Homo sapiens: one gene and its partner. Each later gene encodes a partner of the first gene's protein in a complex. Each region holds a gene or a part of one and is shown on either strand. Other genes may lie near its edges. A codon is read from its position in the direction of its gene.

Region 1 (9,423 bases):
GATTGCTTTCTGAAGACTCCATATTACTTGAGGTGATTTAGAAACTACGGATGTCCACCTCCTGAGTACTAAAAGTTTTCTGTTTAAACTAGAGGTAACCTTAATAGTAATATTCAATTATCAGAAAAGAGAAACTAGCTCCCAATTGTGCCCCAATATCCAGATTTCAAAAAAGATCACCAACAGTGAAACTTAGTATTAGTTATCGTTGTGCTATGAAAGGGAAAAAGGCCAAGGTACTGTTAGCTTTTTTCTCATGCCCGAGGGCTTAACCATGCCTATACAAATTATCTAATTTTTTTTTTTTTTTTTTTTTTAAGAAATGGAGTGTCACTCTGTCACCCAGGCTGGAGTGCAATGCGCAATCTTGGCTCACCACAATCTCCGCCTCCCAGGTTCAAGCAATTCTCCTGCCTAAGCCTCCAGAGTAGCTGAGACTACAGGTATCCACCGCCACAGCCAGCTAATTTTTGTATTTTTAGTAGAGACAGGGTTTCGCCATGTTGGCCAGGCTGGTCTCGAACTCCTGACCTCAGGTGATCCACCCACCTCGGCCTCTCAAAGTGCTGGGATGACAGGCATGAGCCACTGCGCCCAGCCATTATTGTCTAATTTTTTTTTAAAGGGTTGGTGTTAAGAGTGATGTGCCAAAAAATAAGCCAATTACAATTCCAATTACATCTTATCCCATTTACTAGTGTGTAAATTAAGGAAGATGAGAAACTGAATGGGCACTATCAGTATCGAGATTTCCAGTGATAGAATATACTTCCATTTATGTCACTTAGCTGAGGGAGAAGGAATTAAAATGTTGTTATTACACAAGCAGAACCAACATGAATAGAAACAGCTCTACATGCTCCAAAACGATTTGAAACCAAGTTGGATTTAATAACCCGGCTCCTTATCATGGGTATGCAAGATTGGTGACAGAAGGAGGTACACAACCAGATACAGAAGTTACTGCCTTACAGGGCACTACTTTACCTAATGCTGATATCTAGAACCAGGAAATAGCAAGTATGATGTGCATAACCATGTCCTGCACAAGTACATATGTAGGAATTCCCCACTAGTTTCCACTCAAATACCAAGGACAAAATGATGACTGCACAGATATTTAACTCACTCCTCTTTGTGCCTTACCCATGTAAGACAGATCACTAAAGAACTTAATTTAAAAACAACAACAGCCAGGCGAGGTGGCTCACTCCTGTAATCCCAGCACTTTGGGAAGCCAAGGCAGGCAGATCACCTGAGGTCAGGAGTTCAAGACCAGCCTGGCCAACATGGTGAAACCCCGTCTCTACTTCAAGTACAAAAATTAGCTGGGCATGGTGGTGGGTGCCTGTAATCCCAGCTACTTGGGAGGCGGAGGCTGCAGTGAGCCGAGATCATGCCATTGCACTCCAGCCTGGGCAACAGAGCAAGACTGTCTCCAAAAAAAAAAAAAAAAAAAAATTCCCTGAGCTGTACTCCAGAAGTACCGAATCGGAATTTCTGGAGAGCTTGGAAATACCTATTAACAAATTCCCTAATTTTTATACAAATGTAGCACCAATTTGTACACTACTCCCATTTGCCAAACAGATTTTACCAATTATGGCACGTAATTAAAGTTTCCCAAACTGCTGCAGCCTACCTCAGTCATCTAAAAAGAATTCCAATCCATCAATGGGAATGGACAAGCTGTGTTGAGAAAGATTTAAGACAAAGACAATTTTTATCTTTAGGTAAAGTTGAGGTCCCAGAAACCTATCACACTGTTAGCTCTATCCCATGCAAATAGCAAAAGATCTGAGAAAGCGATTTCTTGTTCTCTGGGCAATATAACCAAACAGATAAGCGTTACTCACATAGTTCTTGACTTCTCGTCGAGCATTAGCATCAATAGCAAGCCACCTCTGCTGATATTGTGCCTTGATATCTGGATCTTTAGATGTCAAAGAGTTCTTGATTTGTAGACCAGCTGCAACTCTGGCAACCTGACTGTTTCCTGGATTTGCCAGCACTCTGGACAGTTCCACAAGGAAAGTGGGCTGTTAAGGGAAGATAAATTTGTAAATAAAAATATCTTAGGAATTTCCACAACTGAGGATAATTTATAGAGCACTGAACCACCAGAGGGGCGGCGAGGGGGGGAACTAATGTCTAATTTTTTTTTGATATAAGCATTTCAGGAAACCACAAAATATTTACTTCACTGACTTCTATAAAAATGTTACTTAGTGTAACAGGAAGTCTTCCACTTTTCTCGTGGAGCCTAGCACTTAATGAGGAATTACAGATTTCCCTATCAAGATCATTCTTAGTGCCCAAATTGTCATGTTAGACCCCCGAATTGCAAGGTTTCAGAGTATGGTAGTAGTAGTCAGTCTTCTATGTATACTGAGGTGTCCCAAGAACTTTTAATAATGTCTGGTACTCAATGTTTGTTAAATGAATGGCTGTTATGATGGGGGGTAGAAAATAAAACTGTTTATCTAAATTTCAAAAACCTTGGTCCCAAAAGAATGATCCAACTTTCCATCTCATGGCAGCAGCAGGGTAGCTTTTCAATCCATGGAAGGAGGTGATCTTTTATGAGAGGGGGAAATACAGATAAGCCTAAAACAAACTTAGGAGCCTCATCCTCCGTTTTATTTGTGGGCACTCAGCAAAAAGGGAACAATGAAAAAAGCAGATTTATAAGGAAAAGTGATAAGATATTTAGAAATAGGGAAAAAGTGAAAGAAAAAATCTTCAGGCAAGCTGTTCAAGCAAAATAACTTTGTATCTAATGATCAACAATTACTTGCTCCTTTACATTTGGACTTTAGTTGAGGAATACAGTGGATCCCTGAAAAGCATGTTCTTTTGTAACCTTTTGTAATCCACAGGCCTCAAAAACTACTCCCTTTGTTTAAAAATTTAGCACACACACACCTCTCCACCAAAAACCGTGCCCAAACAGCAAAGTTAGCAGGAAAAGTCAAAAGCAGACACATTTTTCTTACTGCTAACAAGCTCTGCAATCACAGCAGAAGATAATTCTTAAAAGTTTTATTAATTATGTACCACTAAAGAATGTTAAGAATGTTAGGAATAAGATAAAAAGCTTTTTGCAAAATTTGCAAAAGCAGAAACAGGAATAATACCCTAAATGGAATTATCAGCCTATACTAGTGGAAAAATCTCTTCTAGGAAAGGATAAACAGGTTAGTTGTAAAAATTGGCACATATGAAAAACAACAAAAAAATCATTCAAAGGCAGTCTGTATAAAATAAGCCTTGTCACTTTGTTGATGTTGACATTTTGCCTATATAACACAAAGGAACACATATGGTTAGTGTTACTCAGACTTAATTCCTATTACCTTTCTCAAAGATGTCAAGCATCATCCAATCCTTCCCTCTGACCCCATCCCCCAACAGGAGATGGACACCAAAGAGAAACTTAACTGGCATCTAGGCTGTTTCAACCAATCCATCCCACATTTTTATACAAAGGACCAGTCTCTAGCGGACTTAGCTTCATTTTCTCCGGACCCCTTAAATTTTAAAATATGAAAAACGAGGAACTTTCCCCTGTGATTTCATCAGCAAACAGGCCCCATCTCAAAGATGAGCCTCAGTCTGTTTTCTGGGTGCAGATCCCTAGTGATTAGGTCTCTATTCATCCAGGTCAGAAGAAAAAAAAAAAAGAAAGAAAGAAAAAGAAAAAACCCCAAGAGAGGAATAACCGAGCAAAGAGGGAAAAATATCAGTGGAAATGGGTTAAGAGGCAGTCGGGTGCCAGGCCTGGCCATGAGTACAGACCAAGGTAGCTAGGAAAGGGCAGAGCTCTAGGAAATAGGTGGGGAGAGCCACAGGGGCCACGGGATAGGAAGGAGAAGCCGGCCGGGGTCAGACAGGGCGGGCGGCCGGGCCCGGAGCTTCCACATGGCCCCTAGGCCCGACTCCCCCGCCCCCACCCCTGCTGAACACGCAGCGCCGCGCAACCTAACTTCCCTTCCCTCCCTCTTTCTCCCTCCCGCTGCACCGCCGCCCTCAGGCCGCGCAACGATTGGGCGGCAGGCAGCTCGGCGCGCCAAGCCATTGGCCAGTCGCGAGGCCCGGGGCGGGACACACCCACCGGCTTCCCGATGGCGGGGTTAGGTTGGACCGGGTTGGGGGGGGAGGGGGAGGGGGGAGGGGGACGGGATGGGGCGGGGTAGGTTCCCGAGGCCTGGGCCTCCGGGAGGGCGGGAAGGCCCCGCACGCAGGGGATGGGGACGCGGCGGGATGGGCGCGGCGGGGTAGCACGCACCAGGTTCTCCACGGCCGCACGCTCCAGGAACTTCTGCGCCGCTTCCAGCTCCAGCCGATCTAGGGGGAGGAAAGTGGGAGACGGAGCGGGGTCAGAGGGGCCGGGCCTCCCCTCCCCCACCCCAATCACCTCAGCCCTACCCCCGGCTCCTGCGTCCTACCGGGAGACACGGTCTTCTCGAGAATGGTGATCAGCTCCATGGCGGAGGTGGCGGCGGCGGCGACTCCTCCTAAGACGACGGCCCGGCCTTTCGGGCGGCGGCTCGAACTGGGGATGGGGGTTGGGGGTCGGGTGGGAAGGGAGGGTGGGGTGGGGGGCGGGGGTCACCACAAACCCATTCACCGGCTCTGTCTGGGTAGTCGGTCCGGCTCCCCTTCCTCTCCTCTTCCCTTACTTCCTCCCTCCAAATGGGCTGCTGGCGGCGGGGGAGGGACCCTGGGGGCAGCTCAGAGCGCGCTGGTGCTCGGGAGGCGGAGGGAGAAAGAAGGAAGGGAGGCTGTGAGTGAGAGGCGGCGCGCAGGGAGGGAGCGAGGGAGGGAGGAAGGCGGAGGGATATTCGGACCGGACCTCTCCGCGGAGGCGCCGCGCTCCACGACGATTGGCCGTTGTCCTGGCCACGCGGAATCCCTAACTGGCCAGGCGCTCAGCGTCGAAGGGCCGTCTCGCGCCCATTCGCCTGCTGGTTTCAAGGCCCGGGTTGGCTGGGCGGGCAGCGGAATGGAGCGCGCGGATTGGCCGAGGGGAGGGAGATTGGGATGGGGTAGGAGAGAGCCCGCCGTTGATTGGGTGGGCTTGGTAAAGGCCTTGAGCTCAGACCGGCTGAGCGCTGGGAGGAGGGTGGACCGGAGGCACGACTCGGATCCTGCGCGATTGGCTGGGATAGTAGGCGTTGATAGGATAGGGTGCCCGGGAGAACTAAGGAGAGGAGTTCGGGGTCGGGGCGCGGGAAGGCGGGAGGTGCCCGGCAACCCTAGGAGCCCGGCGCGGGGCACGATGGGACGCCCCCGGGAAGAGGCGGAGCTGGGTTCGAGCGCTGGGGCTGCGGTTGGGTAAGCGCCGTCGCTCCGAGGGGCGTGTTGCGCGAGGTTTTCGCGGGCCTGAGCGGGGGAGGGGGGACTGTTGAAGTCCTGCGCCGCGCCCACAGGAAGCTGCTTTAATGGCTAGGTCGGCTTGGTACCCTGCTTTCGGCTGGGAGGGATCCGTAAGGCCATGTGGCTCCACTGCCAATGTGTAGATGTGGAAACTGAAGCCCAGAGAGGGTATGGAACTTGTCCAAGGTCACACAGCTGGTTAATGGCTTGGTAAGGAATGGGTTCAGGAGCCCAGAGAGGGTCTGGAACTTGTCCAAGGTCACACAGCTGGTTAGTGGCTTGATAAGCTCAAGCTCTCCTGACGGCCCTTGTCCCTACAAGCAGCTTCCTCTCCAAGGAGTCCCCTAAGCCTGCTTATATGGGGCTTGAGACCTGTGCTGTGATAAATCTGACTTGCTTAGGGGTGAGCTAAGGGATTCCTCCTCTTAGACCCCCCATCCATAGCTACCAGGTACTTGACAGGATGGAAATGTTTCACCCTCCAAAAGTACCCTGTAAAGGCCCAACCTCGAACCAGAAAGAATGTGTGTACAGGAATAAAGGATTGTGGTTCTTAACCTGTTTCAGTTCTCAACCCCGGAAGAAACTCATGAATGCCTTTTCTTAGCAAAATGCATATAAAGAAAACGTGGGCCGGGCGCTGTGGCTCGCGCCTGTAATCCCAGCACTTTGGGAGGCCGAGGGGGGCGGATGACGAGTCAAGAGATCGAGACCATCCTGGCCAACATGGTGAAACCCCGTCTCTACTAAAATATAAAAAATTAGCCCGGTGTGGTGGCGCGTACCTGAAGTCCAAGCTATTCCTGAGGCTGAGGCAGGAGAATCGCTTGAACCCTGGACGCAGAGGTTGCAGTGAGCCGATATCGCGCCACTGCAGTCCAGCCTGGCGACAGAGCGAGACTCCATCTCAAAGAAAAGAAAAAAAATGTGCATACAGTATGTGGCTCAGGCCTGCAATCCCAGGACTTTGGGAGGATCGCTTGAGCCCAGGGGTTCAAGACTAACCTGGACAACTTAGCGAGATCCTGTCTCTTTTAAAAAAAATGAAGATTTTTAAAATGATAAAGGAAAAGTGTAATAATAGGGCCGGGCGCGGTGGCTCATGCCTGTAATCCCAGCACTTTGGGAGGCCGAGGCGGGCGGATCACTTGAGGTCAGGAGTTCAAGACCAGTCTGGCCAACATGGTGAAACCCTGTCTCTACTAAAAATACAAAAAAAAAAAAAAAACCTAGCCGAGCGTGGTGGCGCACGCCTATAATCTCAGCTCCTCAGGAGGCTGAGACAGAATCTCTTGAACCCGGGAGGCAGAGGTTGCAGTGAGCCAAGACTTCACCACTGCACTTCAGCCTGGGCGACAGTTAAGACTCTCAAAAAAAGAAAAAATAAATGGTAACAAAGAATTTCTTGAATTGTTTCATTTTCACAGTAATGATGTAGGGGTAATTGGATGTAGCTGGTTCATAGAGCTTTTTACCATATGACTTGAGCTTGTGAGGTAATTGCCCTGCAGTAGCCACACTGGGAAAACCTAGGAGGAAGTCTGACTTTGTTGAAAGGTTTCACAAAGAATTAGGAAAGATTGGCCAACTCTTTGTTAAAAGAGGAAGAAATGGTCTTTCTCTGCTAGAGATATCTTTGCAGTTTTGAAGCTAGAAATGTAGGGACACCATTCCTCACACCATACTGTGACTAGTGGATTTCCCATGGCTTAGCAGCTAACCCCAGCCTTTTGCTTCATCTATTAACTGTGGAAGAACTGCCCTGTGTGTGTAACTTTGTTATAAATCAGTGAAGATTGGGCCAGGGCGTGGTGGGTCACGCCTTTAATCCCAGCACTTTGGGAGGCTGAGGTGGGCAGATCAACTGAGGTCCGGAGTTAGAGACCAGCTTGGCCAACACAGTGAAACCCTGTCTCTACTGAAATACAAAATTAGCCGGGCGTGGTGGTGGGCACCTGCAATCAATCCCAGCTACTCAGTAGGCTGAGGCAGGAGAATTGCCTGAACCCGTGAGGCAGAGGTGGTAGTGAGCTAAGATTGCACCACCGCACTCCAGCCTGGGTGACAGAGCAAGACTCCATCTCAAAAAAAACCCACTGTACTCCAGCCTGGATGACAGCAAGACTCCATCTCAAAACAAAACAAAACAAAACAACACTGCATTCAGCCTGGGTGCCAGAGCAAGACTCCATTTCAAAAAAAAAGAAATCAATGAAGATTGGCCATGCGTGGTGGCTCACGCCTGTCATTGCAGTACTTTGGGAGGCTGAGGCTGGAGGATCTCTTGAGCCCAGGAGTTTGAGGCCAGCCTGACCAACATGGTGAAACCCTGTCTGTACTAAAAATACAAAAATTAGCCGGGTGTGGTGGTGGGAGCCTGTAATCCTAGCTACTTGGGAGGCTGAGGCAGGAGAATCACTTGAACCCAGAAGTCAGAGGTTGCAGTGAGCCGAGATTGCGCCACTGCACTCCAGCCTGGGCGACAGTGAGACTGTGTCCCCCCACCGCCGCTAAAAAGTCAATGAAGATTAAGTGAGATGACATCTGTGAAAATCCTGGAATTGTCCTTACCTGAGTTACCTACACTACAAATTATCCATAATTTGTTTCACTCAAGCTAACTTTCCCCTGCTCTCCAGCAGTTTGCTGGGCTACCTCTGTCTCAACATCAGTCATGATGATACCAGTGAGGGCAAATGGATTTTTAAAGCAACTGAAATAAGAGCAAAACCCTGTCTCTATACAATTTTCTTTCTTTCTTTCTTTCTTTTTTTGATACAGAGTCTCGCTTTCACCCGGGCTGGAGGGCGGTGGTGCCATCTCAGCTCACTGCAACCTCCGCCTCCCGGGTTCAAGCAATTCTCCTTTGCTCTTAGGATATAGACAAAACCACTTGCATGGCAGGCAAGGTCTTGTATGATCTTGCCTCCGCTCAGCACTAGCTCGACTCAATCCCTTGTTCTCAATCCCTTGTTTTCCCAAGTAGCTGGGATTACAGGTACCCACCACCACGCCCAGCTAATTTTTTTTATATTTCAGATGGGGTTTCACCATGTTGGCCAGGCTGGTTTCAAACTCCTGACCACAAGTTATCCGCCCACCTCGGCCTCCCAAAGTGCTGGGATTACAGGCGTGAGCCACCACGCCCAACCCATACAATTTTGAAAAAGCCGGGCATGGTGGCATGTACTTCAGGAGGGTGAGGCAGGAGGATTACTTGAGGCCAGGAGTTTAAGGCTGCAGTGACCTATGATCCTGCACTCCAGCCTGGGTGACAGCTAGACCCTGTGGCTGAAGTAAAATGCTGGGAAAATAAAAGTTTTACAGCAAAGTTCCAATCAAACATAAAATCCTTACCAAAATCAAAATGAACTGACTTTAGTTGAACTAAAGTTACTGATGGTGCTGTTTAGTTCTTATCAAAAGTACTCACATTCAATAAATGCTGGTGAGGTACCGGAGCTTGAGTGATGAGCACAGACTCCAGAAATTGGGTGCCTGAGTTCCTATCCCAGCTCTACCACTTCTTAGTTTGTGAGTTAACTTTCCTCAATGTAAAATGAGACTATTAATTGTCCTTACTATGTAGGGACAAATAGGGAGGTCCTAAGTGAGTTAAGACATGGTGAATGGGCTGAGTGCAGTGGCTCATGCCTATAATCACAGCACTTTGGGAGGCCAAGGCTGGAGGATCACTTGAGCCCAGGAGTTTGAGGCCAGCCTGGCCAACATGGTGAAACCCTGTCTGTACTTAATACAAAAATTAGCCAGGCGTAGTGGCAGGAGCCTTTAATCCCAGCTACTCGGGAGGCTGAGGCAGGAGAATCACTTGAACCCAGGAGGTGGAGGTTGCAGTGAGCCGAGATCACGCCGTTGCACTCCAGCCTGGGTAACGCAGCGAGACCCTGTCTCAAAAAAGAAAAGAAAAATATGGCAGCTTTAATTTTAATTTAAAAAAATAAATAAAAGACATGGTGAATGCCAGTCTAGCATGTTATGTATGCATTGGCTGTTATCTCCTTACCATGTATTTTGTGCTAAGTG
Region 2 (8,814 bases), on another chromosome or scaffold:
GGCCCCATACATTCTCATCAATACACTCCTAAGCTTCCTCACTCTTCCCTGAACCTCTGTTGGATTGTGTTGGGAGAGTGCCAACATTTGGCTGCCAAACAGTTCTTTCCATGAATGTCCCTCACAAACAGGGAAGAGAAAGGAAAAGCAGAAACCTCCTATTTCTTTCAGCCCTAGGTCTGGATTTGATTAGGCCACTGTCTAATTTTCACTAGACCTACTTTAACTTAGGGGTAGTTCCAGGCGTAAGAATTGACGAGTGTTAATTTTCATCAATTCTCCAGATACTTAAAGAACATTGCAAATTTGAAATAAATAAAATCCATCAAAAGTTATTTATACCTCTTTTTATAACTCATATATATACGTATATATATATACGTATATATATATATATATATACGTATATATATACTTTTTGCCTCATAGAAACATATCCCCCTAGATAGATAGATAGATATAAATAGATAGATGATAGGTAGAGGATACAATCAGAACTAGGTCTAAAAACACCAAAATAATATGTTGCAATTTATTGAATGTTTACTATATACATATATGTTTATATATATATGTTTATATATATGACATGTTTATATATATGAGACAATGGATAAAAATAGGTTTTGGCAATAAAGTAGGGTCCTTACATTAGTTATAAATATATACAGTTAGGATCCTATCTTAAAACACACTAAATATGTGCAGTAAGCCAGAATTTATAGGGTTTGTTACCCTTTAGAGATCCATTAGATGTTTGCAGGATAGGTCATTCACTGTGCTCAAGATTTTTCTAGTGCCACTGCCCATTGATTACTGAAGCTGTACTACTTATCCCATATGATTGCTATTTTATGTGCTATTTAATGATGGGTTTGCCAGCTTAAAGAGACAAATAATGGTGAATAGGTTCAAGGTCCCCTTTGAAGCATCATCCTATAATCCTATCTGTAGCAGAGTCAAAGGAAATGACTAAAGAAGTAACAGGGGACTCTTAAATAATGAGATCATTAGTTGCATATGATGTGTTCTTCTGTTGTTTTCCTTTTTTTTTTTCAAACCCCACAGAAGTGCTGTACTGAAAAGTGAAAAGAAAAAAAAATCATTTCAATGGAAATGCATCGATAAAGAAGCAGGGCAAACATAGCACTGTCTACGTGTCAGAAAACAGGGAGATAAATCCAGCTTTGGGGCCACCTATTTCAATTCCAAGGACTACTCAGGTCTTTTAGCCGTGGAATGCCTTGGCTTTCTATTTTATAAAATGGGATTAATATTTGCCCCACTTTTTGCCTCATAGAAACATACCCCCCTAGATAGATAGATAGATAGATAGATAGATAGAAATAGATTATAGATAGGTAGATGGTACAATCAGAACTAGTTCCAAAAACACCAAAATAATATGTTGCAATTTATTGAGTGTTTACTATATGACAGATATTTAGTCCACATATAATCTCATTTAGTTGACACCAAACTCTATGAGGTTGGTACAATTATATTTCACAGAAGATGTAAGTGAGTCTTAGAAAGGCAGAGTAACTTGCCCTAGGTTGTGAACTTAAATAAATTCAGACCCAAGACTTGGCCCTAAGTTATTTGATCCCAAAGTCTAGGAGTGTCATTATTACCTCAATCTGTGAGCTAAGGATAAACAAGCCACATAAATGTGAAGTTTTATTTTTCCTACGGCATTACCCTAGAAAAATTATTTCATCTTGCCAATGAACAAAAAGATACATGAGAAAAACCTATATCCTTGTAAGTTAATACTTAAACATTTTCAGAAACCATTTATTTTGTATGAGCTGGTAGAAACCAGAGTTAAATTTAATTAAACAAATTTAAGGCATGTGTTTAAAACATAATTTAAGTTCTTTACATTAAAATAAATTTGAGATTTAATTAAATACATTTAATTAAATAAAAAGTGTGAATGGCTCAGAATCGTTTATGACATGATGCTGTTCTGCAGTGTTTGTAGATAATATCAAATGCTTCTATATTCTCCCTTGAAGTGAAAGAACGTAAGAAATGAAAAACACTGAAGAAAGTTTGCCCAGGTGTGAGAGTAAGGGGAAGAAACACACTTCTCCAGCAAATTATGAAGATGGTCACTAGCTTCTGAAGCTTGAATATGAAATTATTTGGTAGAGTGGTAAAGGATTGATGTTGGGTGACGGTGGAGAAAGAGGAATGGGCTCTAGCGCCTCTCTATGGTGCTGGAGGACAGGGGTGTGTGTGGTAGGGGGGTACTGCTTTAAGGCAGACAATATTCTGAGTTATTCTCTGTCAATTGCTACACAATCGATAGAGATACATAAAGGGAGAAAATTCTAGGTTTGTCCAAGCCAAGGCAGAAGGGAGGCTCCAAAACCCAGCTGAGAGCACCCCGCTGAGGCTACGGGCCAGAGAAGCCTGTTACCGTGAATCGAGCTCCAGCGACGTTGTGGAGGTGTCAGACAGGTGGTCCCCTTCTAGCCCACTCCCAGTCACTCCAGAGTCTAACCAGGCAGAGCGAGTTCGCCGTTTTTTCTTTTCCTGCTCCTTGCGTTTCCCGGGCTTGCCTTTCTTTTTCTTCCCAGGTGTCTTGAGCGGCTGCTCTTTGTACGTCTCCACCTTGTTAGTTTCCTGAGTTAGGTATCTGCCCTCATCATCAGACCCAAATCGGACGGGGTGGTTCTTTGTGTTGGGAGAGGGCTTGGAGTTAGGGGACACCTCCGAGGTAGCTCTGATTTCAGCTGTGTGGATTTCTGCGATCAGATGGTGAAGGAAGAATCGTCGCCGTAAATCTTGGATGGACTTCCCCTTGTCATGGAGGAGCTGATGTTCAGACACAGCTCTTTTGCTTTGAAAGAAAATATTAGAGGGGAAGAAAACAGTTAAATTTTAGTTGCTGATAGAGACAACAAAGACATGAGTAAATCTCTTTAGTTTTCTAGTTGGTCCACCGTAAGACACAAGCTGGATGGGTAGCAAGCTCATTGCGCAGGGAAGGGTAACCAGTGGGAAGGAAAGAGCTGGCAGTTGGAAGGCTCCAGCTCATGGTCCCAGTTCTACCACTCACTAGGTTGTGACCTTGGTGGGAACATGAACATTCTTGGGCCTCATGGGCTTCAACTGTATAAAAGGAAGGGGTCAGAGACAGTGATTTCTATACTTCCTTCCCGGTTTAAAACATATGATTCAGTTATGATCAGAAATAGACAGAAACCACGGAGTATCTCTTCACATTTTTCAGAGTTCTGCTGAGAAAATAAATCTAGAAGTCCCAGCCTGGGAAATAAAAGGCAGCTGCTTTTACCTGAGTATTCTCTCTCTCTCTCTCTCTCTCTCTCTCTCTCTCCTCTCTCTCTCTCACACACACACACACACGCCCCATTAAGAAAATAATAATATTGAAACAGCAAGCCGTAAGAGTAAAAACAAACAAAGGCTGAAGGAGAAGTGAGCAGTGTAGCCTGTCTAGGAAACCATCTGATTCACAGACTGAACTTTAACATTTTAGACTACTGGCTACCAAGAACATACATTTGAAGGCCAATCGTCAGAGAGAGAGAGAGAGAGAGAGAGAAAGAGAGGGAGAGTATGTGTATTTTTCTGTAAAGTAGTGGGTGGTCTCCTTAAAATGGGTTTCTTTGTGTGCTTAAATGAGCTCATTCTATTTCTTCTGTGCTTCATGTTTTTTTTTTAAATTTAGAACTTCAGAGAGTATGATCCTTACTACTTAGTTGAGAAGTTCACTTTTCTACTTGCTCTCTTTGTCTTAAAATTCTCTAGGAAAAAATATAAAGGATTTTTCTATTTAAATGACACTCTAATGAAAATATCGTGAGAAAGAATAAACTAATTCTCTATCAATCCTTTTAGATAACACCCAAACTCTTGCTTAAATGTCCATTGTGTATTCTTTTATTATTTTGTGTATATTATTAACCATATTTACGGACTGCATCTGTTAATCAGTCATATCATGCCTGCTTCAACTCTGCATTAACTCCAATTTCTACCATTGGAATAGTCCTCCAAACTGGCCCATCCTCAAAAGCATCTCAAAGTGTTTCCCAGGGCTACATCCCATGTACTCTTACTTCCCTGAAACAATGGTGTCTGGGTCCTTTGTTGCCTTTGTTGGTGCAATGTCTTTAACTCCTCAGAGAAATATGGCAATCATAAATAGCATTATTACTGCCCCCATTGTATTCATGGGGAAAGTGAGGTGCAGAGAGGTTAAATGACTTGCCCTAGTCTACACAATGAGAACTGGCAGAGCCAGGGCTCCAAAAACTAGGTCTTCTGATTCTAAAGCCAAGACTGCTTTTTCAATTTCCTCAACGCTTTCTCCTGCCTAAGCGGAAGCTGAAGCTGAAGTCCCAGCCTGTTCCTGTGTTGAGGCAACACGGTAAGGAGAGTACAGGGTATATGCATGGGGCATAGAGTAACAAGCCACCACAATAATAGGCAGATTGGACAGAAATTTATCAGTTTCCTTGAAGATCAAGCCTATTGCCCAGAAAGTTCATTTTCATCATCAAATTTAGGAACTACAAGAGTTTGGATTATCACTGGATGAATGAGTCAAAGAAAAGAGTAAGAGATGAAAATACAGTCATCATTTCTCTGGCCCTTCTAGCTAGAATGTCAGCTACCTTCTAGTATTTTAGTGTGTGGACTGACTTGAAGCCATGTAGCTCATTCAAAAAAGACATGACTTAATGGAAAGGAATTTAACAGGAGCCTGGTTTAAATGAGGCATGAAGGAGTCTCTCTTTCTTTTAGAAGGTGCCACATGTGACTAGATTAAAATTCACTTACTCTGCGGTAATAGTTAGTATTCTGGAAACTTTTAAGAATCTACAAGTTTGAGGCTTTGGTACAAGGTATTTATATCCTTTAATAACATTTATAAAATAATAGGACAGATATAATTGCATATTTCATAAGCACTACAGTTTAATAAGTATCTTTTAGCAAAATGTCACATTAAAAAGCAGTTCTTAACCACTGATAATTTATAGTATTGGGGGCTTTTATTTCTTTCTCTGTTCCTGGCAGAAGCCCTCGTCTTCTGTATTGCTCTCCAAATGGATAAAGTGTAGCCCATTTTAGCTTAACTTGAGGCCAAAACTTTTAATGGTTGGTCTATTCTAATTAAGCCACCATTGCTCATATGCCCCTTCTCATGGGCATATGTGCTTGTCATCTTGGCCAGCCTGTCAACTGTGAGTCACAGTGCCTTCCTAACTCAAGCTGCATTTTCCCAGGATAGTTCTCTTGGGAAATGCAGTGATCATTCCATCCTTCTAATTTATAAAAAGCCTACAATATGGCACAGCTTTGTTCAATTTAAAATAGTACATTGCTTACGAGGGACAAAGCTTTTCATCTGCCTTTTGGGGGAAACTGTTAGTATCTTGGAAAACACAAGTTTTCTTAAATGCTAAATTGGAAATGCTGTTAGACACTTTACTTAGTATTTCAAAAACTTCTGCAATTAAAGTATTGTGAAGAATGAATCTCTCACTAGGCAGTTGCATTAGAGGATCAGGAATATAATGGCATCAGTATAAACTAGGTATACAGAGGTAGTGAGTAATAAATTCAAATTAAGGACGTTTTCAATTTAGATAACTCTGAAATATTTAAGTTGTAAATATGGCCTCAATAATAGTCTTTTACTCAATTTGTCTGTAAACATTACATAGCACTATGGTTCACATGACACTTACATACCTAAGCTCCAAAATGGAAAAACAGGTAGGTTATGTATCATGTTCTCCTTTGATTATTGTAAAAAAAAATTGCAAAATTTTGGGGAAATGCTTATCATAGATAACCCTAAATTCAGCCCAAACATAGTTCTTCTCCTTTAAAAAAAAAATCACTCCAAGGGAGTTTTTAGGGAAGAAGCTTAGATTTCTAAGGAACTATCAAGGAACAGAGGGCATAAAAACAGTGATGGAAATTCCCTTTCCAGCACAGGAAGAAGCAGTATGCTTGTACTGATGCTAGGCTTCTAAGGACGGACTCTGTGTTTGAGAAGAAAAGTTCTGTGGTACATGCAAGAGACAGGGTTAGGGTGTTAGAGTTAAGATGACTCACCAGAAGGTCCTTCCAACCCAAATGACTCAGTAGAAAGTTATGCTTTTCATTAAATGGAATAGACCCAGTCTGGCTCCTAAGCAAATCAGCCAATGACGTTTTAGGTTTCTGAATCTGTGGAGTTCCCTCTCTAACTTAAACATAGAGATAGCCACCTGCCAGAAGCCTTGTTCATCTGCACAAGAACATCCATAGGCCTCACTTTCCAGTATCCAACTTGATCATGCTCTAGCTCCATTAATTAAAATCTTTGGGATTAACAGGTCAAAAAGACTCACAATTTGTAACTGCTTCCTTTGCATGGTTTAGGAAGTCTTATTGTTATAGTAATTTCCTCTCCCTTAAAAGTTAGCATCTAGTTAAAAAAAAAATCTATACTTCTAAAGCAGTTTCCCTAATACTTGGTGTGAAAACCGGGGAGTAATATGGTTTGATTATATGTTAAAATTTCTTTCAAGAAACTAGCTTGATTTAGCATAATGGTAGACTTATGTTTTGTCTAGCACACAAAATTTACTGTTACTTGGCAGCAAGACAAAAATAATGACTTGTTTTTAAAAACTCCATTTGGCTATGATAATTTGATGAAACATCTTCATCTACTGATGATTTCAGCCTCCATGAAAAACCATGCCTGTAATGTGATGATCTATTACCCATTAACTATGAGAATGTTTTGTGGTAGTTTTATAACCATCTGCTGAGTGTGAGTGTTTAACTACAATATTATATTTCACCCACAAACAAAACTATAACAGTCGCTGGCTGCTAAATGGTTTCTGATGTGTGTTTTGTAAGGTGCAACAAAGAAAGAGTTAAAAATAGCCTTTAGGACAACTTAGCAGTATTTTTATGCCATAGTTGTGTATATAATCGTGAATCATTTGCTGTTTCTCAAAAGAGAAAACAGGTATTTCTTAAGCAACTTTAAAGAAAAAATTGGCTCTGTTCCAAGGTAGTATTTCTTAGCCAAATAAATATAGTATTTAAGTGTGCTTTTAAAAATTCAGTCTTCATTTCTATTTATGTATGAATTTCAAATTATTGAATTTAAGACAAGTTTCAAAATGAGCAAAAAGTCTGAAGACAATTTTCAGAAACACATCGGTAAAATGTTGATCTGAAGAATACAATGCAGCCTTATCTTCGGTATAATGTTCTACACAATTTGCCTTAGGAGATTCATAATAGATTTTCATTTTGATGCCAAGGTTCCGACATGTCTAAAGTAATTTCATTTAAGGATTTTCTCCTCTAATAATAATAGACCACAAGCACGTATAAAACAGTTGCCTTTTTGTACACCCTCGGGAATTTACAAGGAAGCACCATAAACCTGACTGTAAATATTAGATACTGCTATTTTTATTGTTAGTGTAAAAATTTGCCTTAATTCCTTCTCCAGAGTCAAACGCATCTCAGTTCTCGAACTTTATAGTTTTCCCATTCTGAACACTGAGTCTGCAGTTTAAAGATCACCCAACTATGGTGTTATACACATTAGTGAACTGCTAGGTCCAACAGATTATTAAGATCATGTTACTCTATCACTCTTCCAAGTTTTCAGTCACACGACATAGTGATATTTCTCTGGTGTGCTTGGATGTATGATTATTTCAAAGTTGAAGTTATCATTAAAAGAATCACCAAGTGAGAATGCCAAAATACAAGTTTTCAGTCTACAATGCAAATATTTGACTCCAGATTAAAGAACTGTTAGCAATAACTCCAAGAAAAAAAAGGTTCCACACCTAAAATTCATTTTGGAATCAAGCGCTCTAGCGTTCCTGAACTGTATCAATACTAACATTGGAGTCGTGCCACTGCAAAGTTGTTGCTACTTTATTATATAATACGCTTTTATTATGTAATGTGTTCCTATTTTATATGCTTAAAATTATGTCATTCATAATAAAATTAGATGTACGGCTTTTGCTTTTTCACACGCAAACCGCCACCCACATTCAGTATGTATACAAGCGCGCAGGCCATACGTCCCCAGGACCGCTCAGCTTCCTCCGAGTTTCAGAAGCTTCCCGGGTCCTGACAGTAACCACCACCCCCCAACTTTTTTTCTTTTCCACTAGAGGCAGAGGATCTTTCCCTAGAAGAGATTCTGTGAAACGCTCCCTCTTATGGAAACACACATAAAGTCTCTCTCTTGCCTGTCTCCCGTTGAAGATCAACCAGTTCTCCTGCCAGGTTTGAGGACCCGGGCTCAGGCCCCGGCAGGTATCCGGGATGGTCCCTCTCCCTAACCCGGGCAAGGAGCATCGGTGACCGCTGCAAGCCCTCGGCAGCATCCCAGCTTGGCAGCCCCTCCCCCTGGCCTCCCCAACCCGGCGCCCTGGGGAGGATGGGGCACTTACAGGCGGCGGCTGAGACCCTCCACCGAGCGCCCGCAGGAGGGCACCGCGTAGCTCAGCAGGAACACCGCGACGCTCCACTGCTGAACCAGTCTCCGCTGCATCGTCTCCGCTCGCGCTCGGGACCTGCAACAGAAGGGAATGGGACCCGAGTGTCAGTCTGGACTCTCCATCTCCCCGCACTACTCCGCTCCCCCTTTTTAGCCCGCTCTCAAAAAGCCTCTTCAACATCAAGGGCATCTCCCAAGTTGAAAAGAAAAAAAATTTCTCTGGAGCCTCTCAGCACTTACTTATTTAGCAACCGGCTACTCCAACTGTGCTTTCTCCAAACCACACAGCCAGA

Evidence for each region.
Region 2: the proteins of KPNB1 (region 1) and PTHLH are in contact, whole or in part, in a crystal structure (PDB 1M5N), measured with the Homo sapiens proteins. Residues at the interface, in NP_002256.2 of Homo sapiens: Val55 (codon at 1,976), Tyr104, Pro106, Gln111, Glu152, Tyr156, Gln159, Asn196, Leu199, Asn200, Gln239, Glu274, Gln278, Glu281, Asp288, Ile295, Ser298, Glu299, Asp339, Asp340, Trp342, Val350, Met353, Glu395, Trp430, Arg434, Glu437, Asn469, Trp472; in NP_945316.1 of Homo sapiens: Tyr103 (codon at 2,646), Thr105 (codon at 2,640), Gln106 (codon at 2,637), Glu107 (codon at 2,634), Thr108 (codon at 2,631), Asn109 (codon at 2,628), Lys110 (codon at 2,625), Val111 (codon at 2,622), Glu112 (codon at 2,619), Thr113 (codon at 2,616), Tyr114 (codon at 2,613), Lys120 (codon at 2,595), Thr121 (codon at 2,592), Pro122 (codon at 2,589), Gly123 (codon at 2,586), Lys124 (codon at 2,583), Lys125 (codon at 2,580), Lys126 (codon at 2,577), Lys127 (codon at 2,574), Lys129 (codon at 2,568).

The regions. Positions count from the first base shown.
Region 1 is NC_000017.11:47,645,310-47,654,732, reverse strand, and holds the start of KPNB1 (importin subunit beta-1), read right to left. Parts: upstream 4,815-9,423; 5' UTR 4,489-4,814; coding exon 4,449-4,488; intron 4,348-4,448; coding exon 4,289-4,347; intron 3,669-4,288; exon of another isoform or gene 3,357-3,668; intron 2,040-3,356; coding exon 1,857-2,039; intron 1-1,856.
Region 2 is NC_000012.12:27,960,920-27,969,733, forward strand, and holds part of PTHLH (parathyroid hormone-related protein isoform 1 preproprotein), read right to left. Parts: exon of another isoform or gene 8,762-8,814; intron 8,598-8,761; 5' UTR 8,576-8,597; coding exon 8,475-8,575; intron 2,852-8,474; coding exon 2,429-2,851; coding exon of another isoform or gene 2,425-2,428; exon of another isoform or gene 1,402-2,424; intron 1-1,401. UniProt on the Homo sapiens protein: Neuroendocrine peptide which is a critical regulator of cellular and organ growth, development, migration, differentiation and survival and of epithelial calcium ion transport.